4 linked regions of the Homo sapiens genome follow. The gene in region 1 interacts genetically with each later gene. Each region holds a gene or a part of one and is shown in the gene's direction. Other genes may lie near its edges. The genes, in order: TNFRSF1A, NOL3, HNRNPA2B1 and CFLAR.

The links.
Region 2: of TNFRSF1A (region 1) and NOL3, changing one suppresses a phenotype caused by changing the other (phenotypic suppression), as found in Homo sapiens cells (one study listed by BioGRID).
Region 3: changes in TNFRSF1A (region 1) and HNRNPA2B1 together harm fitness more than expected from each alone (negative genetic interaction), as found in Homo sapiens cells (one study listed by BioGRID).
Region 4: of TNFRSF1A (region 1) and CFLAR, changing one suppresses a phenotype caused by changing the other (phenotypic suppression), as found in Homo sapiens cells (one study listed by BioGRID).

What each region holds. Positions count from the first base shown.
Region 1 is NC_000012.12:6,339,067-6,346,502, reverse strand, and holds the start of TNFRSF1A (tumor necrosis factor receptor superfamily member 1A isoform 1 precursor), read left to right. Parts: upstream 1-4,426; 5' UTR 4,427-4,688; coding exon 4,689-4,727; intron 4,728-7,436.
Region 2 is NC_000016.10:67,173,502-67,176,237, forward strand, and holds the end of NOL3 (nucleolar protein 3), read left to right. Parts: exon of another isoform or gene 1-367; coding exon of another isoform or gene 368-545; intron 546-660; coding exon of another isoform or gene 661-668; coding exon 669-963; intron 964-1,119; coding exon 1,120-1,443; coding exon of another isoform or gene 1,444-1,445; intron 1,446-1,545; coding exon 1,546-1,553; coding exon of another isoform or gene 1,554-1,596; 3' UTR 1,597-2,236; downstream 2,237-2,736.
Region 3 is NC_000007.14:26,190,711-26,197,746, reverse strand, and holds part of HNRNPA2B1 (heterogeneous nuclear ribonucleoproteins A2/B1), read left to right. Parts: intron 1-14; coding exon 15-125; intron 126-285; coding exon 286-432; intron 433-729; coding exon 730-940; intron 941-1,088; coding exon 1,089-1,190; intron 1,191-1,265; coding exon 1,266-1,346; intron 1,347-1,837; coding exon 1,838-1,900; intron 1,901-4,052; coding exon 4,053-4,172; intron 4,173-4,373; coding exon 4,374-4,496; intron 4,497-5,169; coding exon 5,170-5,231; 3' UTR 5,232-5,252; intron 5,253-5,408; 3' UTR 5,409-7,036. UniProt on the Homo sapiens protein: Heterogeneous nuclear ribonucleoprotein (hnRNP) that associates with nascent pre-mRNAs, packaging them into hnRNP particles.
Region 4 is NC_000002.12:201,154,152-201,161,187, forward strand, and holds part of CFLAR (CASP8 and FADD-like apoptosis regulator), read left to right. Parts: exon of another isoform or gene 1-256; intron 257-3,603; exon of another isoform or gene 3,604-3,641; intron 3,642-6,280; coding exon 6,281-6,791; intron 6,792-7,036. UniProt on the Homo sapiens protein: Apoptosis regulator protein which may function as a crucial link between cell survival and cell death pathways in mammalian cells. Acts as an inhibitor of TNFRSF6 mediated apoptosis.

The sequences.
Region 1 (7,436 bases):
CATCATCACTAACCTCCCCATCCCCCACTCCACTTGCTGAGTCCCACTTACCACCTGGCGGCAATGAACCCTCATCTGCCTGCCTCCCATCAGCTGTCTGGTGGTGGTGGAGGATGATGAGGCTCAGGCCAGTTTCTCCTGGAAATGCAAAGCCTTATATGGTCTTATTGGTACATGATTGCAGAGAGGGGCACAGGGAATCCTCCCAGCTTTAGTAAAGGAGAGACTGAGGTCCAGGGAGGGGCTGAAGGATGTGCGAGTGGAACTCCAGCTCTCCGATCCTTGTTTCTCCCCCACTCCAGCATAAGACCTGGAATCCAGAAGTGACCCTTTCTCACCATCTTTGGGGATTCTGTCCCTGCCACCTTAGTCTTATTCATCTTAATTGCAGTCTCCCTGTTCTGAGGAGCCAAAGGAGGAAGAGACTTTCGGGGAAAGAGGAGAAGGAGCTGGTGACAGGGGTAGGAAGGTAGACAGGGTCATGACCTGAAACGGTGTGACGACTGCTGACTTCCCTTTCCTGGACTTGAGCTGATGAAGGGGAAATGGTGTTGCAGTCTCCTCTGTCAGAGCCCTCAGGTGCAGACGGCACTTGTCTGCCCCCTCAGCCTCAGCCTTGGCCCACCTGGTCCCCAGTGCCCTCTCCTCTGGCTGGGGCAGGAGGACCTGCCGGACATAGCCAGATGTATTACGGATGACTGCAGTCAGCTCCCCCAGGCTCCTGCTTCTCTTGCCTCCTGCTTTTTTCCCCAGAGCTGTCTCCTTATCTCCATTCACTTGTCTATGGGTTACTCCTGGACCCTGGGGTTAGGAGTTGGAATCAGGCTGTTAGCGATAAAAGGGTTCAAGTTGACTCATTTTCCTTATCAGGCTTAGTAGTTGAAGTGACTTGCTGAGCTTCATAATTCTTAGAGAACCTGCCATGAACCCAGCTCCCTTTCTATGACTCACCCTGCCACCCTGTGACACATAGAGTCTGAATGGCAGGTCTGGGGCTAGAACCCACGTCATCTGGACTTGGAGTCCAGTGACCCTTTGGGTTAAGCATGTGTGTGTGTGTGTGTGTGCCATGATGCGGGAGGAAGGTCCCTGCTCTCTGTAGCTGTTTTCTTCATCCTTTGCTCTACAAGCCCTAACAGCCGATTCTGTCATCCCTAGTCTGCCCCTCTCCTGTTTCTCCATCTCCTCTGACCATGATTTTTTTCTGTCCCTGGAGGGATGATGGTCTCATTCTCACCTCCTCCACGAAACGTGTTAGCTTTTCATATTCCTAGATCCACTCACTTCTCATCATCTTTTTTTTTAAACAAAATTTTATTGAAAAATGTAATATGACGTGTCAAAGTTGTAAAGTTATTGAGTAAATAAGCATGTATCCTAAATATTGAAAAATATTCTCCTTTTGTACCAGGCTATGTGTCACGGCTTTGGCGCTTTGCACAGACTATTAGAAATACCTTATAACATTAAAAATAGGACATTGAGGCCGGGCGTGGTGGCTCATGCCTGTAATCCCAGCACTTTGGGAGGCCAGGGTGGGTGGATCACCTGAAGTCAGGAGTTTGAGACCAGCCTGGCTAACACGGTGAAACCCCGTCTCTACTAAATACAAAAAATTAGCCGGGCATGATGGCACATGCCTATAATCCTAGCTACTCGGGAGGCTGAGGCAGGAGAATTGCTTGAATCCGGGAGTCAGAGGTTGCAGTGAGCCGAGATTGTGCCACTGCACTTCAGCCTGGGCAACAAGAGTGAAACTCTATCAAAAAAAAAAATAGGACATTGAAGTTGGTTTCTTTTTTTGATACAGAGTCTCGCTCTGTCACCCAGGCTGGAGTGCACTGGCAGGATCTCGGCTCACTGCAACCTCTGCCTCCTGGGTTCAAGCAATTCTCCTGCCTCAGCCTCCTGAGTAGCTGGGATTACAGGCACGCGCCACCACGCCTGGCTAATTTTGTATATTTAGTAGAGACAGGGTTTCACCATGTTGGTCAGGTTGGTCTCGAACTCCTGACCTTGTGATCCGCCCACCTCAGCCTCCCAAAGTGCTGGGATTGCAGGCGTGAGCCACCGCACTCTGCTTTTTTTTTTTTTTTTTGCCGCCCTCTCACATACCATACTCCCCTGTATCACTTATCCTTCTGAAGTTGTTATTAATCATTAATACAACTAGCTGGGCATAGTGGTGTGCGATGGTAGTCTTAGCCACTCGGAAGGCTGATGTGGGAGGCTAGCTTGAGGCCAGTAGTTCTAGGTTAGGTGAGCTATGATTGCACCATTGCACTTTAGCCTGGGTGAGAGCAAGCTCCTGTTTCAAAAAAAAAATTAATTGCTACCACTTACTAAATGCTTAATATATGGCAAACACTTGCCAAACACTTTATATGCTTGATTTAAGCATCAAGCTAGCTCTGTGAAGGGTACCAGCAGGTTTCCCATTTTTTAGATGAGCAGACCGAGGTTCTTCTCGCTGCTTCATACTGGAAACTTGCACTTGATTCTGAGGCTCCTGCTTCTTCAAGAACACTGCTTTGGGTTCGCTTCTCCTGTCCCTGGGGTCTCCCTTTGTGATGGTGGTGAGCTGCTTCCTTTCTGAATCCAGCTTCAACCCTACAGTTCTCCAGAAGCTGGACGATGGGGTGGAGTAAAGTCAGCTCCCCCCGCAGTGAGGGACACTGAAGCTCCATTCTCATCTGCGGATCACAGAGGGGAAGCCAGGAAGAGCCAGGGGACGGTGGACTTGGGGCTGGGAGGTCATCTCAGAGGGATAAGGGGTGAGGAGCTCTGGTTTCAAGTTCCAAAGCCCTAGGACCTCCCTCTTCTCTGTCTGCCTGCATTTCTAGCAGCCTCAGCAGCTGCAGGCCCTTGGGCGGGGCTGGATGTAGGGAAGGTCATTGTACCAAGAAGATAGTTGGGTAAATGTGGTACCTTTGTTGTAGGATTCTCTTGGGAGATGTCTGCATCAATGAGGATGGCATAAAGTAACCAGAGTCAGGATGTGGGGTCTGACTCAGTGACAGAAAAAGTGGCAGTGTGTCTCTCATAGCCAAAGGGGCCCTTGGACCGGCAGTCGGGAGTCTGGGGTTCTCTGTTGGCTCTGCCTCCTGGCACATTGGGTTTCTGGACCTCAGTTTTCTCCTCTATAAAACCGGGCAGTTGGGTGGGCACGGTGGCTCACACCTGTAATCCTAGCACTTTAGGAGGCTGAGGTGGGCAGATCATTTGGGCCCAGGAGTTCAAGACCTGCCTGTGTAACATGGTGAGACCCTGTCTCTACAAAAAATACAAAAATTACCCAGGCGTGGTGGTATGCACCTATAGTCCCAGCTGCTTGGGAGGCTGAGGTGGGAGGATTACTTGAACCTGGGAGGTCGAGGCTGCAGTGAGCTGCGATGGTACCACTGCACTCCAGCCTGGGAAACGGAGCGGACCCTCAAAACAAAAACAAAAATGAAAAACAAGCAAACGAAGAAATAAAAAAACCTAGGGGGTTGTAGTCGATGATCTGTAAGGTGAGTTATAATTGATGTATTGGAATATTTAGGAAAAGGGCACTGGGAATATGCTAGGAACACCTGATGGAGGTATCTTTATTTCCACGGCAGCTTCGTGGATACGTCTCATTGATTCTCATGGCATCACTTTCCCCATGTAGGTGGGCAGACATTGTTACCCCTGTTTAATAAACAAGGAACCAACAGAGGCTTAGGAGAGGAGTTGCCTGATGTCGCATGATTGGTGGCAGAGCCAGGATCAACAGTGGGGCAGGGTGGGGGGACCTGGCCAGGCAGAGACTGGATGAGACCTGGGGTGAGGAATGGCAGGCACCCAGTCAGGGCAGAAAACGAGGGTTGGGACTTACTTTGAGTTTTGGATTGGATCAGTAAATTCCCAAGAAAGAGGGAGACTAGGAGGCTAGTGAAGAACTCTGGAGTAAAGGGGAGGATTACTAAGGGACATGGAGTACCTATCATGTGTCGGACGCTTATCTATATCTCTCCCATCTGAACAAATCCTTACAGGAACCCCAGGAGACAGGTTATCTCCACTCTGCAAATTGGAAAACAGATCCAGACAGTTTCAGTTATGTGTCTGAGAAGTTCATTTATGTGTCCAAGACACATTCTTAGCTAAAAAGCTAAGCATTCTGAATTGGAACCCAGAGAATTTGACTCCCAGACTCTGGATCTTTTCACTGCTGTGATCCATCTGGGAAAGGCTAGTGATGTGGGCAAGGGGCTTATTGCCCCTTGGTGTTTGGTTGGGAGTGGTCGGATTGGTGGGTTGGGGGCACAAGGCAGCCAGATCTGGGACTCCTGTGCTTGTGACTGGACTACAAAGAGTTAAAGAACGTTGGGCCTCCTCCTCCCGCCTCCTGTGGCCTCCTCCTCCAGCTCTTCCTGTCCCGCTGTTGCAACACTGCCTCACTCTTCCCCTCCCACCTTCTCTCCCCTCCTCTCTGCTTTAATTTTCTCAGAATTCTCTGGACTGAGGCTCCAGTTCTGGCCTTTGGGGTTCAAGATCACTGGGACCAGGCCGTGATCTCTATGCCCGAGTCTCAACCCTCAACTGTCACCCCAAGGCACTTGGGACGTCCTGGACAGACCGAGTCCCGGGAAGCCCCAGCACTGCCGCTGCCACACTGCCCTGAGCCCAAATGGGGGAGTGAGAGGCCATAGCTGTCTGGCATGGGCCTCTCCACCGTGCCTGACCTGCTGCTGCCACTGGTGAGACCAGGGACAAAGGGAAGAGTGGGCTGGTGGGCGAGGCACCTTCCGGCTGGCGTGGGCCCTCTCCGGGAGGGGGCCGAGCCTCTCCTGCCCGGGCCTGGTCCTGGCGCCAGCCTCAGGCCTGCAGGTCCTAACCTCAGCCACTGCCAGTGTGGGGTTCCCCATTCATCCGCCTTTTGGAGTAGGGGCTGCGCTGAGGCAGGGGAATGGGAGAAGTTTGAAAGGGAGAGAGTAAAAGGAAGCCCTGGCCCCTGACAGCGGTGGAAGTTTGTGGGCGGCCAAGGGAATGTGGGCAGGAGATAGGCCCAGGGTGGGGCAGATTTGGCGGGGAAAAGAAGGGAGTGGGAGTAGGAAGATTAGTGCTCGGGGAGTCCAGACGGTTCTGAATTCTGTCCCTCCGGTCAGCTGGCTGGCCTGGAGGGTGTTGGGCCGTGGGGAGGCGAGGCTGCCTGTGGAACTTGGTGGAGCACACCCTGTAGGGCAGGATTTTGGCGGCTGGTGAAGTGGGGGAGTGAGTTGAGGAGTGGGGATGGGCTGGTGTGGTGGGTTTGGGATGCTCATGGTGGGAGGTATTTGAGAATGGGCTGGGACACTGGATGGGGCAGGGCAACCCAGTGGACAGTGTCCCCAGTGCCCTGGCCAAGCCCCGGCCTCTCACCTGGGGACATTCTTTACCCTTTTGCCTGCTGCTAGGCAGGTAGCCGCTGTGGGACTGAGCCTTCCCAGGGAGCTAGTCCTACCCCCACCTGGTCAGTGTCCCTGGGCCTGTCCTCCAGCTTCCCCTCCCCGCTGCTTCTCACAGACCTAAACAACAATCCCTTGGTTTCTTATTCTACAGTTCAGTTTGGGGAAGTTGGTAGAAAGTTGTTTTCGTCACTGGAAAATGTCCCTTTCTCTGGCCTCAGCCTTGTTTCAATGTATCCTTGATCGTCCTCCACGTCTTGGTCCGGGAATCATCCTGTTCAGATGTCCTGGGCCCATCTAGTCAGGCAGATTTTCCCTGCCCTGCCCGGCCTCTGAAGGCTGCGCCTACCTCCCCTCTCTTTAGTGCCTTATACTCTTCCTCTCCTACCATTCCTTTCTTCCAGCAATCTCCCCAGACTCTCCTCAGACTTCTCAGAGCCTCTTTTTTTGAAATCTTTTCTCGCTAATCCTCCTTCCCCTCCTCTCTGCTCCGCTCTGGTCCCGGCCCCAGGTCCCCAGGCAGCACGTCTCTGGTCAGGGTCTCACTCTTCTTCTTCTGCCTCCTCCTGCCTCCTTAGTCCCACCCGCTCTTCCCTTCTTCCCACTGTCCTTCCCCCACGGTCTCCCCACCAGCCAGCTGCCCTGACATCCTGCTTCTGTTTTCTGTTTGGGGGCGGCCCCTGGCTCCCTCACATACCTCCTGCATGAACAAGAGCAGCTTATATAACCTAACCTTCCATGCCTTCGTTTCTTTATCTCCAAAATGGGTGTCACAGTCTTGACCTCATACTGTTGTTTTGAAGATTGAATAGACTGATACATGTTAAGTGTTCATTTGATTTATTAAGTGTGCGCTCTGGGCTAGACACTGTGATAGGTGCTGGGATTACAGCAGAGAACAAAATCCCTGCCCACAGCTTTGACAGTCCATCAGGGGAATAGGTTGTAGCAAATAGAAAGCACTCAATAAAGTTTTTATATTGCTGTGACTAGTAGTAATTACTGGGTGGCTACCTGTGTTGGGAAAACAGAGGGTAAAGGTAGCCTGAACAGGTAAAGGGAAGTGCCTGCGTCCTGGGGTGCTTCAGCCCAGGTGGGATTATGTCTCCTAAGGGACAGAAGCCTGGCCTGGAGCTGGAGGAAAGGGAAAACAAAGGGAATGCAACATCCTTCTGAATTTCTCACCATTCAGTGGGCAATGCAGAGCTCACAGTGTGTGTGTGTGTGTGTGTGTGTGTGTGTGTGTGAGAGAGAGAGAGAGAGAGAGAGAGAAGTGGGGTAGGGGAGTAGGGAAGAATGATACAGGAGAGACTGTGGCAAAGCAAACAGGATTTTGCTGCTCTCAAAGAGCTTACAGCCTAGTAACCAAGATGGCTTACAGTGAAAAATGATTTCAGAGCAATCCCGAGGAAAATATCCACAAATGCATTGTGATGTGGTGTCCTGGAGCACCAGTTGGGAGGAGGAGGAACTGGGGAAGGAGGTGAGCCTTAGTCCACTGCCTTTCCTTGCTTAGCAGGTCTCAGCTCCTGCGCTCAGCTCCAGAAAATTCAGGAGCTTCCCCACGCTGCTTCAGTGTCCTTCACTGTGCAACTGCAGCACTCCCTGTATAGATCTCAGTGCCTACAACTGACTGTCTTTGACTCAAGTGAGAGCTCTTGAGAGCACGAGCTGTGTATTATCCACCTCAGCATCCCTAGCACCCATACGGGACCTGTCACATTAACTGTGCCCCTTAACTATTTGCTGAAGGAATTAAGGAACAAGAGATGTGTCAGATGGGATGGCGGAGGGAAAGCCTCATAGAAAAGTGGATGTGGAGCTGACATCTGAAGTCACTGCCTGTCAGGGTAGCTATAAAGGAGGGAAGCAGAGTTGGATACTGATGTGAGGAAGAGGAGAGGAATGGAGAGATGGGATTTTGTGTTGATGGGCAGGGTGGCAGGAAGCCAGACACCTTGGTTCGGGAGTGGAAAAACCATGTTGAGAAACACTAAGAAATGTGAATGGGAGAATTAGAGG
Region 2 (2,736 bases), on another chromosome or scaffold:
GTAAGGGGAGAGGGGCAGGGAGGCTCTCAGCACTTTGTGCTCTGGGTTCAGAGGGGACTGGAGGATAGAGTATGGAAGCAGGGAGCTCTGATCCTGGGTTCTGCAGGGCCAAAGCAGGAGGCAGAAGGCTGGACTTAGTAAGTGGTGAGGATGGTGAGAGAAATATTCAGCAGTCAGACTGGAAAGGACTTGTCTGCAAGCTGGGTGTGGAGTATCAGCATCAATCCTAGGTTTTTCTGCCTGGTTAGGTGGGGAAGCAGATTTGAGAGAAAGACCTTAGTTTGGATAAACGGGGTCTGAACTCGCCTCGGATTTGCCGGGGGTGGAGCTCAGGACGTCCTGGTTGGGGAGGGCATTCAGAGAGTAGATGCCAGTCCTGGGAAAGGCAGGGGAGGAGAGGAGAGCCACGGCTGACGCTTGGGGACAGAAGGAGGAGCCTGAGGAGGAGACAGGACAGAGCGTCTGGAGAGGCAGGAGGACACCGAGTTCCCCGTGTTGGCCTCCAGGTCCTGTGCTTGCGGAGCCGTCCGGCGGCTGGGATCGAGGTGAACTTAAACCCCAGCCTGGGTGTTCACTGGGGGCATTGAGGGAGTGGTCAGAGGCGGCGAGGGCAGCGGGGAGGGCAACCCCCCATTACTTCTCTCCCCTTTCCCCATGCAGCCCCGACAATGGGCAACGCGCAGGAGCGGCCGTCAGAGACTATCGACCGCGAGCGGAAACGCCTGGTCGAGACGCTGCAGGCGGACTCGGGACTGCTGTTGGACGCGCTGCTGGCGCGGGGCGTGCTCACCGGGCCAGAGTACGAGGCATTGGATGCACTGCCTGATGCCGAGCGCAGGGTGCGCCGCCTACTGCTGCTGGTGCAGGGCAAGGGCGAGGCCGCCTGCCAGGAGCTGCTACGCTGTGCCCAGCGTACCGCGGGCGCGCCGGACCCCGCTTGGGACTGGCAGCACGTGGGTCCGGGTGAGCGCGCGGGGCGGGGCCTAGGGCAGAGCAGGGACGGGGCTGGGGCAGACAAAAGGCCCGGGGAGGGCAGGGTTGTCGTCTCCGCTAGAAGTAGGCGAGTGTGAAACCGCACAGGGGTAAATTGAGCCTCAGTCACTCCCACTTCCGCCCCAGGCTACCGGGACCGCAGCTATGACCCTCCATGCCCAGGCCACTGGACGCCGGAGGCACCCGGCTCGGGGACCACATGCCCCGGGTTGCCCAGAGCTTCAGACCCTGACGAGGCCGGGGGCCCTGAGGGCTCCGAGGCGGTGCAATCCGGGACCCCGGAGGAGCCAGAGCCAGAGCTGGAAGCTGAGGCCTCTAAAGAGGCTGAACCGGAGCCGGAGCCAGAGCCAGAGCTGGAACCCGAGGCTGAAGCAGAACCAGAGCCGGAACTGGAGCCAGAACCGGACCCAGAGCCCGAGCCCGACTTCGAGGAAAGGGACGAGTCCGAAGGTGTGAGTCCGCCCAAACCCTGAGCCGGCTTGGCGGGAGGGCATGGCCTGGGAAGCGGATGCCGGACCCCACCTCTTTGACCACTGTTCCCGTCATCTCTAGATTCCTGAAGGCCAGAGCTCTGACAGGCGGTGCCCCGCCCATGCTGGATAGGACCTGGGATGCTGCTGGAGCTGAATCGGATGCCACCAAGGCTCGGTCCAGCCCAGTACCGCTGGAAGTGAATAAACTCCGGAGGGTCGGACGGGACCTGGGCTCTCTCCACGATTCTGGCTGTTTGCCCAGGAACTTAGGGTGGGTACCTCTGAGTCCCAGGGACCTGGGCAGGCCCAAGCCCACCACGAGCATCATCCAGTCCTCAGCCCTAATCTGCCCTTAGGAGTCCAGGCTGCACCCTGGAGATCCCAAACCTAGCCCCCTAGTGGGACAAGGACCTGACCCTCCTGCCCGCATACACAACCCATTTCCCCTGGTGAGCCACTTGGCAGCATATGTAGGTACCAGCTCAACCCCACGCAAGTTCCTGAGCTGAACATGGAGCAAGGGGAGGGTGACTTCTCTCCACATAGGGAGGGCTTAGAGCTCACAGCCTTGGGAAGTGAGACTAGAAGAGGGGAGCAGAAAGGGACCTTGAGTAGACAAAGGCCACACACATCATTGTCATTACTGTTTTAATTGTCTGGCTTCTCTCTGGACTGGGAGCTCAGTGAGGATTCTGACCAGTGACTTACACAAAAGGCGCTCTATACATATTATAATATATTCGCTTACTAAATGAATAAGGACTTTCCAACTGCGTTTCTGAGTTTTACAGATGGGAAAACTAAGGCCAAAGGATAGGAGTGGGGTTCACACAGCTAAGTCTGAAGGGAAACTGGAAGCAGCAACCACCTCTGCACCTCACCTGGTCTAAGAGGGGTTCAGGACTTGGGCCACCAAACTCTAGGGCCTGTCCCTCAGGTGCAATTGCAGCTGCTCCTAGGCTATGCCAACCTCTGCCAGAGAGCAGCTGTGAGGGTGTGAGCAAAGACAGGAACAGCAGAGGCCAGTGGAGGGAGTGGGGAACAGGGCCAAGGGAGCTCTTGGGCTTGACTCTCAAGGCCTGAATCAGTGTGTGTGTGTGTGTGTGTGTGTGTGTGTGTGTGTGTGTGTGTGTGTGTGTGTGTGTGTGTGTGTAATGGGAGTGGGGCTGGGAAAATTGGTGCCTTCCAAGAAGGAGTGTCCTGTCCAACCCCCCGCACCCCCACGGAACCTTCAGGAGCTGCTGCTCCCAGCCACAGGAAGTAGACCATA
Region 3 (7,036 bases), on another chromosome or scaffold:
ATTTTCCTTTGCAGAGAGAAAAGGAACAGTTCCGTAAGCTCTTTATTGGTGGCTTAAGCTTTGAAACCACAGAAGAAAGTTTGAGGAACTACTACGAACAATGGGGAAAGCTTACAGACTGTGTGGTATGTAAATTACTGAATTGTTACTGGATATTAGTCTTTTAGCTGTATGTTAAGTGAATCATGGAGGAAATAACTATCAGCATAGTAAAAAATTCTATTATGACTTCACTTATAAGCTATAATGAGATTAAATGCTAAAGTTTACCCTTTGGTTTGAAAGGTAATGAGGGATCCTGCAAGCAAAAGATCAAGAGGATTTGGTTTTGTAACTTTTTCATCCATGGCTGAGGTTGATGCTGCCATGGCTGCAAGACCTCATTCAATTGATGGGAGAGTAGTTGAGCCAAAACGTGCTGTAGCAAGAGAGGTAAGCAAACAATGACTGTCTTGTGCATTAACATGAAGAACGCTGCCCTGCTGAAAATCAGAAACTATTTCTGAATTTAGTTTTAACTCAAGATTTTTTCTCTTATTAAAGGTGTGTTGGGTTTCTGGACCATTTTCTTAAGCTAGCTTATTTTTCAAAAGCTAGGTCCCTAAAAGCTATTTTATATCTGGTAGTTTTAAGGTGGATACAAGCGAAGTATGGTACTACGGTTGGGTGCTTTGAATTATGCTTGTGTTTTTTTCTGTTTGGATGACTTTTACCCCACCACTATTTTAGGAATCTGGAAAACCAGGGGCTCATGTAACTGTGAAGAAGCTGTTTGTTGGCGGAATTAAAGAAGATACTGAGGAACATCACCTTAGAGATTACTTTGAGGAATATGGAAAAATTGATACCATTGAGATAATTACTGATAGGCAGTCTGGAAAGAAAAGAGGCTTTGGCTTTGTTACTTTTGATGACCATGATCCTGTGGATAAAATCGTATGTAAGTGTCTAACCACAAATGTACTGTTTTTTTCCAGTGTATTCAATTTTGTGTATGTTAACATCTGTAACTTTATTGAAAGGTAAACTTTTGAAGCTGCTTAATATTGTTGATTTAATTTAAAAGGAGTCTGAATTTTTCATTCCAGTGCAGAAATACCATACCATCAATGGTCATAATGCAGAAGTAAGAAAGGCTTTGTCTAGACAAGAAATGCAGGAAGTTCAGAGTTCTAGGAGTGGAAGAGGAGGTAATTTTAATTCTGTTTCTTCTTTATTTTTGTTCATATATAAGGGCTTGCTTCTAACTGGGGCATTTATTGTAGGCAACTTTGGCTTTGGGGATTCACGTGGTGGCGGTGGAAATTTCGGACCAGGACCAGGAAGTAACTTTAGAGGAGGATCTGGTGAGTTTCAAGTTCTACGTGTTTAAAGGATGAGTGTGCTTTTATTTTAAATATGATTAGGTTTTCATTAGTAGAATCAAGAAATCCAACCTAAGTCAATTTTCCTAAGACTTCAAATAGATTGTATCCTGGCAAGCTCTTGTGATTTGGCCAGACAAGAAGTTAATAGAGTTGTATTAATAACAGTTGTATTTATCTGGATTAATAATGTAACATGAAGTGTCATCCGAAAAGCTTTGACCCCCATCAAGTGTCATTCTTACGTATAAATAGGATGGAATCTCTAAGATTGAGACTTGTTAAGAGTCCAAAATTTAGGCGGTAGATTTAATTATATGCTTTCATGTTTTGTGGGTAAACTGGTAGCACTGGTGTGTCCTTTTCTGCGGTTCTTAATTATTGTGCTGAGGTAGTAAGAGAACTGAAAATGAATATTAGCAATAATGCTGAACAGTTTATAGTAAACGTAATCTTTTTTTGGCCCCTAACAGATGGATATGGCAGTGGACGTGGATTTGGGGATGGCTATAATGGGTATGGAGGAGGACCTGGAGGTCAGTTTTCCTCTACGTTTTGGTTTGTTTATGTGACTAATACTTAACTATATCGTATATTTACTTCATTTATATTTTGAGTTTTTAAACATTTTATATTAGTGTCTATAAATGGCTTGGGTGATAGTGGTCCAGTTATTTCTAAGTAGTTTTGCCATCTTAGCTGTTATAGCCTAAGGAATAGAGTGCCATTTTAAATGAAAATGTAAAGATAACCATCAGAGTATCTCATCTTTTCTCAAGCAAAATGATTGGATCTAGATATATCTTTGTACGTGCTTCTCTGGAAAAGTACAGAATACTGGATTTAACAGAGTAAAACCTAAGGGGGTGGTATATGTAGGAAAAAATATGAAATATGTCTAAACCCGTAACTAGATGGGAAGCATCCCAGGATAACTTTCAAAAAGCGTAACCTACGGAAATGTTCCAAAATGTTTAGTGTGCTCCTGGCTGCAGATAAGGTTGTGAACTACCATTAAACATGAAGTGTGATATATCATTGGCGTACAGAAAAGGCTGATACACACTGACAGATTTTGTAACAAGGGACATTTAAAACTGAGCTGGTAATAGACTTGATTTCTGGTGTTGCCACTCAATAGGCATGACTAAATAGTGTATCTCACTGTTCTACTTTTTATAATTAAAATTTTAGAGGAAGCTGAGTTCTTGTATTTAACTACAAGTTAGAGACTCAGCCCACAAGCTTTTTTTTTTTTTTTAATATGGTTTCTTTTTTTTTTTTTTTTTTGAGACGGAGCCTTGCTCTGTCACCCAGGCTGGAGTGTAGTGGCGCGTCTCTGCTCACTGCAATCTCTGCCTTCCCGGTCCAAGTGATTCTCCTGCCTCAGCCTCCTGAGTAGCTGGGATTACCGGCGTGCACCACCACGCCCAGCTAATTTTAGTATTTTTAGTAGAGACGGGGTTTCCCCATGTTGGTCAGGCTGGTCTTGAACTCCTGACCTCGTGAACTGCCCACCTTGGCCTCCCAAAAACGCTGGGGTTACAGGCGTGAGCAACCATGCCCAGCCTTTTTTTTTTTTTTATTTTTGTTTTGCAGTATGTGAAAGTGTAAATTTTTGTTTATGTCCGCACTTCTATTTACAGTAAAGAACATACTGTGTGGAGTGTTGGGTCTGTTTTTTTTCTTTGAAATGGGGTCTGGCTTTGTTGCTCAGACTGGAGTGCAGTGGTGTGATCTTGGCTTACTGCAATCTTAGTCTCAAGCCATCCTCCCACCTCAGCCTCCTGGGTAGCTGGAACTACGGGGTGTGCCACCATGACCGGCTAATTTTGTGTTTTTTTGTAGAGGTGTGGGGGTTTTGCTGTGTTGCCCTGGCTGGTCTTGAATTCCTGGGCTCAAGCAATCCACCCGCCTCAACTTCCCGTACTGCTGGGATTACAGGTGTGAGCTGCTGCGCCCAGCCAAGAACATTGTTTCGTTTTTTGAGAGGGAGTCTCTCTCTGTCGCCCAGGCTGGAGTGCAGTGGTGTGATCTCAGCTCACTGCAACCTCTGCCTCCCGGGTTCACGCCATTCTCCTGCCTCAGCCTCCAGAGTAGCTAGTACTACAGGTTGCTGCCACCATGTCCGGCTAATGTTTTGTATTTTTAGTAGAGATGGGGTTTCACCGTGTTAGCCAGGGTGGTCTCAATCTCTTGACCTCGTGATCCGTCCGCCTCGGCCTTCCCAAAGTGCTGGGATTACAGGCATGAGCCACTGTGCCCAACCGAGAACATTGTTTTAAGATATGTAATTCGTAGAGAGACATAATAGAAACTTTATCTTTTGGGCCAGTAGGAGGAAGTGCTCTTTTACTTTCCCTCTAGCCCACACTACTAGTCTAGCCTCACAGTCCTTACCCACAATATACATGAAGTATTTCAAGATACTTAAGATTTTTAGTTTTGAGGGAAAGCTGTGGAATTACAGGTATTTAACTGTGTGCACATGGTGTTATCCATTTGGCTGAGTAACCCCAGCCACCAAATGTTTACCAAGGATAGTTATTCAGTCCTTGAAGCTATTTTAGAGGAATTTCATTAAATATTTCACATGGAAACTTGGAAAGCTGGAAATGGATGTGAGGAGACAGTTCAAAATGGTATTGAAAATATTAAGTGATTACTTAAAGGCTTATTTTATAATAGGTGGCAATTTTGGAGGTAGCCCCGGTTATGGAGGAGGAAGAGGAGGATATGGTGGTGGAGGACCTGGATATGGCAACCAGGGTGGGGGCTACGGAGGTGGTTATGACAACTATGGAGGAGGTAATAAATTCACCTGCAACCTTTATGTGGGAATTTGGAATTAATGTCTTTGTAACACTTGATCTTTTGTTTCCATGTTTGTCACTAGATGCCCATAAAATTTGTGGATAAGTGTTTGCTTTTATTTGTTTTTATGGGAGCTTTGTCCTAAGTCCTTGGTTTAATGTTTGTATTGTTCTGAGTATTCCAATTTTTTAATAGGAAATTATGGAAGTGGAAATTACAATGATTTTGGAAATTATAACCAGCAACCTTCTAACTACGGTCCAATGAAGAGTGGAAACTTTGGTGGTAGCAGGAACATGGGGGGACCATATGGTGGAGGTAATTTATAAAAATTGAGGTTATTCAGATTTTTGTGATTAAAGGATTAGCCTTTTGTGACTTAAAGGGAAGATAACATACTAAGTAGTTTGTACTGTGGGCAGTGCTCCATGTACGGTCTTAGTGAAAATAAAGAAATTTTGCATAAATCTCCACAGAAGTACTCAGCAAGCAGTTATGACATCAAATTGGGATTAGGGATGTTGGAGGTGGGGGTGTTCAGTAGTTTAATTTCTGGTGGGGACTCATAAACAGCTAAATACAGTTGCAACCCACATTGCAAGTGGTATACATTGGAATGAGGGTCTTTGAAGTTAAATCCTTAAACCATGATTCAAACCATTGCTTAGCTTATTTTTGAGGTTTTTAGCTAGGAGTAAACTAGCTTTGTCTTGGGCTTGATGTACTTTTAAAAAAATCCCTTACTCAGTCCAAATGAGGATGAGAGGGTGAAAGGACCCTTTATTTAAAAGAATAGGGTCAGCCACGAAATAAAAATGTCTATGAACCCGAGTAATTTATCTCCTGAGTAATTCTGCTAACTGGCTGCAAAGGATTAGGATCTGCTTGTTTAAAAGACTGGATGGATATAAAATAGAATCAACTGTAGTGTTAGGCTGATCATGGGAAATCAAAGTAAGTTTGTTTTCTCTTGCTGTTCCAACAATTATAGGAAACTATGGTCCAGGAGGCAGTGGAGGAAGTGGGGGTTATGGTGGGAGGAGCCGATACTGAGCTTCTTCCTATTTGCCATGGGTAAGTAGCTTTTGAGTTTTACAATTATTATTATCTTGGGAGACATAGCTGCAGGAGTAAAAGCTTTTTAGGATCATGTTATCTTTCCTTAAAATCTGGTTAGATGGATAATTTCATAACCTATTTTTTTTTTACTCTTTACTTCTGTTGAAACAGGCTTCACTGTATAAATAGGAGAGGATGAGAGCCCAGAGGTAACAGAACAGCTTCAGGTTATCGAAATAACAATGTTAAGGAAACTCTTATCTCAGTCATGCATAAATATGCAGTGATATGGCAGAAGACACCAGAGCAGATGCAGAGAGCCATTTTGTGAATGGATTGGATTATTTAATAACATTACCTTACTGTGGAGGAAGGATTGTAAAAAAAAATGCCTTTGAGACAGTTTCTTAGCTTTTTAATTGTTGTTTCTTTCTAGTGGTCTTTGTAAGAGTGTAGAAGCATTCCTTCTTTGATAATGTTAAATTTGTAAGTTTCAGGTGACATGTGAAACCTTTTTTAAGATTTTTCTCAAAGTTTTGAAAAGCTATTAGCCAGGATCATGGTGTAATAAGACATAACGTTTTTCCTTTAAAAAAATTTAAGTGCGTGTGTAGAGTTAAGAAGCTGTTGTACATTTATGATTTAATAAAATAATTCTAAAGGAAATTGTGTAATTATAGACTTTTTATTTTAAATAAGTTAAGGAGTGGGTAGTATAATTAAGGTCCGTTGCAAAGCTGTTGTTATATTTGTATAAGATAAATGCTGGTCAGATGTAAGTGTGTTGTCTGCAATTCATCAGGATTAAATTATGTAGATAACTTAAGGGATATCTCTGCAAGGAGAAACACCTTTTTAGATCTTTTAGATGCTGCTTCTTCAATGCAAGGAAAGGAAATAACCCCAGCGAGGTACTCTTCAGGGACACAGGTCTAGTACAAGAGAACTCTTGACGGCTACTAAGTTCAGCCAGTCTTAAAAAACTGTGCTGTTTCTACAAAACTTTAACTACAGTAGTTTATAAGGATGCCAACGAAAGCTGAGGGTGTAGAGCAAAATAGTTCTAAGCTTCAGTTAAACTTCTTTAGGTAAGATCTTATTTACTTTTCCTTTCTTAATTTTCCTCCCTAAAAGATAAACTAATACTCTTAAATGGTCTTTCAGTATAGTGGTTCTTACGTAGTTTAACATAGCTATAAATTGAGTTTAACAATTTATAAACTCAAGAGAATAATTTTTATAAACCCTGTTTTCCAATCTGTCATTTACTTAAATTATTTTGGTTGTTTTTCCCTTTTTTTCCTTCTTTTCCCACCCCCTCCCCCTCCATGTGAAGATTTGGGTGCTTAACATATCATTTTTTTCCCTGCCGGAATTTTAGCATTGATATGAACCATGGACAAGTATATTCTGCTGCCACAAAGACTGTAAAGTGCTTCATTTCAACAGCTGAGGCAAGCCAAGTGATCATTAATAAAGCTTTTCTTGGTTCCTTCAGTGGTGTTGGTAGTAAAATGGTAGGTAAAAGTTAGGCTGCAAGTTCAATAAATCATGAGATTTCCCATCGTTACACCCTTGTGTATTCACATTTCTTGGATCAAACATTTTGAGTGAACTAGGGGTTTTTATTAAAGACATTTGTTGTATTTATGGTTGTAACTGTACATGCTTATCAGGATGAGACTGAAAGAAGGTAGGGCAAAAATGGTTGAATCTATTTTCAGATAGTAGTTCATACTTGAGTGAAGTGTCTTGTCTGCATTATGAAGCCTGGTATGTATCCAGTACTAAATAGGTGG
Region 4 (7,036 bases), on another chromosome or scaffold:
CGCAATCTCAGCTCACCGCAATCTCCACCTCCCAGGTTCAAGCGATTCTCCTGCCTCAGCCTCCTGAGTAACTGGGATTACAGGCATGTGCCACCATGCCCAGCTAATTTTGTATTTTTAGTAGAGACAAGGTTTCACCATGTCGGCCAGGCTGGTCTCGATCTCCTGACCTTGTGATCTGCCCACCTCAGCCTCCCAAAGTGCTACGATTACAGGCGTCAGCCATCATGCCTGGCTTATTCTCTCCATTTTCAAGGTGAGGAAGCTGAGCAGTGAACTACACTCCTACCTTCTCTAGTACTGATTGAGCTGGGATTCAAAAGCTGGACTCCAAAACCTATGCTTTTAACTACTTTGCCTCAATATAATTTCCATGAAGGTGAGGGAGTTTATCTATCTCCTACTATGGGTCTCCAGTACCTGGAAGAATACCTGCTATGTAGGTGTTCAATAAATAATTGTTGGGTGAATGAATGAAGGAATAAGCTCTCCCAGTGTCAGTGTGTTTCTAAAAGCCATTCCTTTTTATCTTTAGAGTTTAGCAGACTCTCTTCTACCTATCTTCCCTTCTCTCCTCAAAAAACCAGACTTTTATCCAAAAAGCATGCAAGTCCCCCAAGTATTTAAAGCTTTATTTCTTTGTTTGTCCAGTAAATGTTCGTTGAGGGCCTACTATGTGCAAAGCACCATGCTTGGCCCTGTGTGAAGCAAATATTAAGGCAATGAGGTGGAGTCTGATCTCAGAGCTGTGTTGTGCATGAAATAAGGTTATTCTTTGGTAGTTCTTTCTTGAGAAGAATTCTTATGGAGTTCAGTAACCTCTTCTTGAGGCAGAAGTAAATGCTCAGGGATTTGGGAACTAATTATCTCAGTTTGGTAGAATTGAAAAATAAGTCTTTGGTGTTGTGTCATCTGTGTCAGTGACAGCAAAGCTGGACCTGTGCTAGGCCCTGGTGGGTCATCTTTAAGCACTGGACTTTTATCTTGTTAGGAATATAGAAGCAAGCGTCTCACATCTCTGACAGATGGGCTTTACGGCTTGGCCTAAAGCTCTGGTTGTTTTTAAGGCCCTTGAATAAAAATAAAAGACGATGTTTGCAGATTTTAAGAGGAAGTTTTTTTTTTTTTTGAGACAGAGTCTCGCTCTGTCACCCAGGCTACTGGAGTGCAATGGCGTTATCTTGGCTCACTGCAACCTCTGTCTCCCGGGTTCAAGCGATTCTCCGCCTCAGCCTCCTGAGTAGCTGGGATTACAGGCACCCGCCATCATGCCCGGCTAATTTTTGTATTTTTGTAGAGATGGGGTTTCACCATGTTGGCCAGGCTAGTCTTGAACTCCTGACCTCAGGTGATCCGCCCGCCTCGGCCTCCCAAAGTGCTGGGATCACGGGGATGAGCCATCGCACCTGGCCAAGAGGAAGTATTTTTTTTTTCTATCCTGCTCTTTCTGAAAAGCTTGAACATTTTTCTGTACTTTCCTTTTCTTTTTTGAGACAGGGTCTTGCTCTATCACCCAGAATGGAGCACAGGGGTACAATCATGGCTCACTGCAGCCTTCACCTCCCGGGCTCAAGCAATCCTCTCACCTCACCCTCCCAAGTAGCTGGAACTACACACAGGCGCCACCACATCCATCTAATTTTTAAAATATTCTGTAGAGACAGGGTCTCACTATGTTGCCCAGGCTGGTCTCAAACTTCTGGGCTGAAGCAATCCTCCCACTTCAGCCTCCTGAGTGGCTGGGACTACAGGCACATGCTATCATGTCTGGCTAACTTTGTTTTTTATAGAGACAGGGTCTTTTGCTGTATTTCCCAGGGCGGTCTTGAACTCCTGGCTTCAAGTGATCTTCCTGCCTTGGCCTCCCAAAGCACTGGGATTATGGCCATGAGCCACCACGTAATCTTTGTTTTATGCGTATTTATAAGCTTTGCTTCCCCAACAAGATTATAAGCTCTTTGATTGAAGTACATCATATATTTGATATGTATTCTCTTGTCCAAGTGTTTCTGTAGGCAATAAGGGGAACTTTGTAAAACAAGAGTTTTCCGGTCAAGTAAATTTGAGAAGCGCTGCCTAATCTCTTCCCCCTCAGAGATTTGCAATGCATATTGACCTATTAAAGGCTCTGAGAATTCTTCCTGCGAAGAAACCTATTTTAGCCTTGTCCACCTTGCATTTCCCAAACACGTTTGACCTCAGAACTCCCTTTTTCACTAAGAATGTTTTGCCCATCTTATGTTTTACCCATGTGCTCTATAGCAGTTAACACTGGGCTTATTAAAGGTACTCAATATGTGATTGTAAATTAACTGGTGAAGCATTCCCTCATTCTTGTTTATTTTATACATTTATTTAATGAAGCCCTTTTCATAGAAATTGTCAAGATAAATGTATCCTCATTTAGATCAAAACAAATTCTAAATTAATGAAGTCATGACATTTTACTGTATTTTGGTTTTTTTGGTTTATCTGTGAAGTCCTCAAACCTGTGAGTAGTGCTGACCCTAGCCTTGAATGAACAGCCCTGTACTAACTGCAAGGCCAGAAGAACCCCTGCCCTTCCCCTCCCCACCCCCCCACATCATTTCCAGAAGTTCTAAAGAACAGTTGAAATTTACGGAGATCAGACTGGGTTGAGTGTGGGATTTCCAGGGTGGGTTCTAGAAGGAGAAGTGGGTCTTCTGTAGTTTGTTGAAATTTTATTTTCCAAACCCAGCCCCCAAGTTTTTCTTCCTCTATTTATGTGCAAGGACAAAACAGTTACTGTCCTACCTACATAGGATATGGACTCTGTCTGCTCTGAGCCCATTTTAGTTTAGAATATAGAGACCTCCCTCCAGGTCCTAAGAGAGAGATTCCATGAGAGATGTGCAACACCATAAGGTTGGTGATTTGTACTTTGAAATGGCTGCCTTTATTTCCTTTAAAGTCAATATCTTATATTTGAATAAACACAGTTTGCAAAGCATCTTTACAGAAATCTCATTGGATCCTCACGGTCACCTTTTTTCTGAGACAGAGTCTCACTCTTTCACCCAGGCTGGAGTGCAGTGGAGCGATCTTGGCTCCTCCACTTCCTGGGCTCGAGTGATCCTCCTTCCTTAGCCTCCCAAGTAGCTGGGACCACAGATGCGTGCCACCATGCCCAGCCAATTTTTGTATTTTTGGTAGAGATGGGGTTTCGCCATGTTGCCCAGGCTGGTCTCAAACTCTGCAGCTCAAGCAATCCACCCGCCTTGGCCTCCCAAAGTGCTGGGATTACAGGTATGAGCCACTGTACCCTGCCCTCACAGTCACCTTTTGAAGAACCTCCTGCTCAAGAGATCCTCCTGCCTCAGCCTCCTGAGTAGCTGTGATGACTACAGGCTTGTACTACCATGCCTGGCTAGTTTTTTTATTTTTTGTAGAGACGGGGTTCCCTGTGATGCCCAGGGTGGTCTCAAACTCCTGAGCTCAAGCCATCCTCCCACCTCAGCCTCCCAAAGTGCTGGGATTGTAGGTGTGAGCCACTGCACCTGGCCAAGCATTAGTTTTAATCTTGTTTTATAGATGAATAAACTGGGGCTGACTCAAACTGACTCAAAGTCACACTGTCATTACCTTTTTGATCCTGTACGTTAGACTGGGCTGTATGCATGTTCTTGCTGGCGCAATAAAGTTGCAAGTGCCAGCTAACAGCCCTTCCCACTCCACCTCACCACCTCATAGAGGAAAATTGTGACGTTAATGGGAAATGTCAGCGGTAATGTCTTCAGGCTGGGCCTGTGGAGTGACTCCCTTGCCACAGGATATTTAAGCAATGCTGTGTCTTGTCTGAGGCTCAGACCTGCTATTCTTATTGGCACTTGGGACCTGCATGGTTTTTGGCTTCACCTCCAGCTTTAGCCATTTTTCTTCTGTTCTTTTAGGTAAGGATTTTCTGCCCCAGACCTCAGATTCCCATTTCCTTCCTAGCTTCTCTGCTGTTATAGCTCAGTCTCTTCCAAGACCATGCAAGATTCAGACCCTAGTAGGAGGAGATGGAGGAACTAGGACTTAAACCCACATCTTGTGATTCCAAGGCTGGTTCCTCTTTTGCCCTGCACCACACAGCTGTCTGCTCACAGTCATGTGACAGGGGCTTCCCCAGCCAGAACCTCCAGGGAGCACAAATAAAGGAAAGAGCTGGAAGGCACAGTACAGCATTTGTTCTGTCCAAGCCTTACATATCAGCATGGGCAGGGAGAATGTGGTGAAGTTTTCTTTCAAGGACTTTGTTTGATAAGGAAGGACATTTATCAGTGAAGAGAGGTTTTGAGGGAAGTGAACCAATCTTGAGATAAGTACACAAAAGAGCTTTGAGTCTGGTGTTTCCCTGTTTGCTTCTGCCCCCTGGAGGAGCAAATACTCCATGATTAGAGACGTGTGAGTCCTTTGGAATAGAATAGCAGTGATGGAACTGGAGTCCTAGTCCAGGTTCTCTCCTTGTTCAGCCTGGATTCAGCACTGGGTATCGAAACAAGCCTGCACCCTCAGAGGAGATGGCTAGGGGACAGTGCGTCCAGGCCTCTTCTACCACACAGAGTTTTCTTTTTTTTATAAAGGGTATACACATTTAAAATTTAATGATACTCCCAAATTGCTCTTCAAAAAGGCTGTGCAAAATTACAGTCCTGATAACAGCTACCCAGAGATCCTGTAACGGCATTTGCCCTCATCATTATTATTATTATTATTATTATTATTATTATTATTTGAATTTGAGACGGAGTTCTGCTCTGTTGCCCAGGCTGGAGTGCAGTGGCGCAATCTTGGCTCACTGCAACCTCTGCCTCCCGGGTTCAAGCAATTCTCCTGTCTCAGCCTCCCTAGTAGCTGGGATTACAGGTGAGCACCACCACGCCTGGCTAATTTTTGTATTTTTAGTAGAGACGGGGTTTCACCATATTGGCCAGACTGGTCTCGAACTCCTGACCTCAGGTGATCTGCCCGTCTCGGCCTCCCAAAGTGCTAGGATTACAGATGTGAGCCACTGGGGCTGGTTGCCCTCACTATTTAATGGGTTATTTGCAACCTGTGAATCATGTCTCCTATTTCCTTGTTAATGATGCTTATTGATTATAGACTTAGGAATATCAGCACCTCCTTTGTAGCTCTTCATTCTTACATGATATAATAATTAATTTTTTTTTTTGAGACAGAGTCTCACTCTGTTGCCCAGGCTGGAGTGCAGTGTCACAATGTTGGCTCACTGCAACCTCCACCTCCTGGGTTCAAGCGATTCTCCTGCCTCAGCCTCCTGAGTAGCTGGGACTACAGGTGCGTGCCACTACACCTGACTAATTTTTGTATTTTTAGTAGAGACAGGGTTTCGCCATGTTGGCTAGGCTGGTCTTGAACTCCTGACCTCAGGTAATCTGCCCGCCTCAGCCTCCCAAAGTGCTGGGATTACAGGTGAGCCACTGCGCCCAGCCAATAATTCATTGTTTAATCCTTAGTTGTGGGCCAAGCAAAGGAGAAAAGTAAGAAGCCTTTTCCTTTTACCGATAGGAAAGGTCAAAGGACTTACCTGGTGAATTATTTACCTAAAAATGTATACAAATCACTCCAAAATTTAGTGGCTAAAAACAACAGTACTAATTTAATTATATCTTCACAGTTACTAATTTAATTATATCCTCACCTGTGGGTGAGGAATTTAGGAGCAGCTTAGCTGGGCTGTTCTGGCCCAGAGTCTAGTGAAGTTGTGGTCAGTTGTCAGCTGGGTCATCTGAATGCTTGATTGGGATTGGAGGCTCCACTTCTATGGTGGTCACTCACATGACTGAGAAGTTGGTGCTAGCTGTTGGCAGGAAGCCTGTTCTTCATGTGGGCCTCTCTGAGGGACTGCTTGAGTACTTTCATGATGTGGTGGTGGGCTTCTCCCAGAGTGAGCCACTCAGAAGAGAGAAAGATTGTGAGGTCTGGACTTCAATAAGAAGATTGTTGAAGAAAAAAAGGTTTTGTCCCCCCTTGGTTTGATTGGACTAGAGTGGGCTCAGTCTGTGCCTGTGGCTGGCATCAGGCAGGAACAGTGGTATAGCAGGGTATAGACCATATTTAGGGACCTAAAATCACATCTTTCATGATTCATGTGGTTCTTGTTCCAACTGCCCAGGACTCAGGCACATCAAAATATGACACAAAAGCAGAAGCTTTTCATAATGGAGATTAGACCATGTCTAGGATTCCTACCCAGTCCTCTTGAGCTCTCCTCACTCCAGTGTTGTTTTCCGTGTTTGTTTTTTGTTTTCCCCAGAGCTTCTTCGAGACACCTTCACTTCCCTGGGCTATGAAGTCCAGAAATTCTTGCATCTCAGTATGCATGGTATATCCCAGATTCTTGGCCAATTTGCCTGTATGCCCGAGCACCGAGACTACGACAGCTTTGTGTGTGTCCTGGTGAGCCGAGGAGGCTCCCAGAGTGTGTATGGTGTGGATCAGACTCACTCAGGGCTCCCCCTGCATCACATCAGGAGGATGTTCATGGGAGATTCATGCCCTTATCTAGCAGGGAAGCCAAAGATGTTTTTTATTCAGAACTATGTGGTGTCAGAGGGCCAGCTGGAGGACAGCAGCCTCTTGGAGGTGGATGGGCCAGCGATGAAGAATGTGGAATTCAAGGCTCAGAAGCGAGGGCTGTGCACAGTTCACCGAGAAGCTGACTTCTTCTGGAGCCTGTGTACTGCGGACATGTCCCTGCTGGAGCAGTCTCACAGCTCACCATCCCTGTACCTGCAGTGCCTCTCCCAGAAACTGAGACAAGAAAGGTGAGCCCCCAGGAGGTGGTCAGTTCCGGACCACCTGCTTATTTTCGTGCCACCAGGATGGGAATTACCACTGTGCCACATTTGCTGCCCATCTCTTCCGGGAGGAAAAGAGATTTTCCCTCCTGCATTGGGCTTGCCCTAGGACTACAGTATAGACCCGGCATGATTTATAAATACTTTGTAGTTAGTTAGTTTGTAGTTTGAATACTTTTCTTTAAAATTAAGAAATTTTCAGCCTGGGCAAC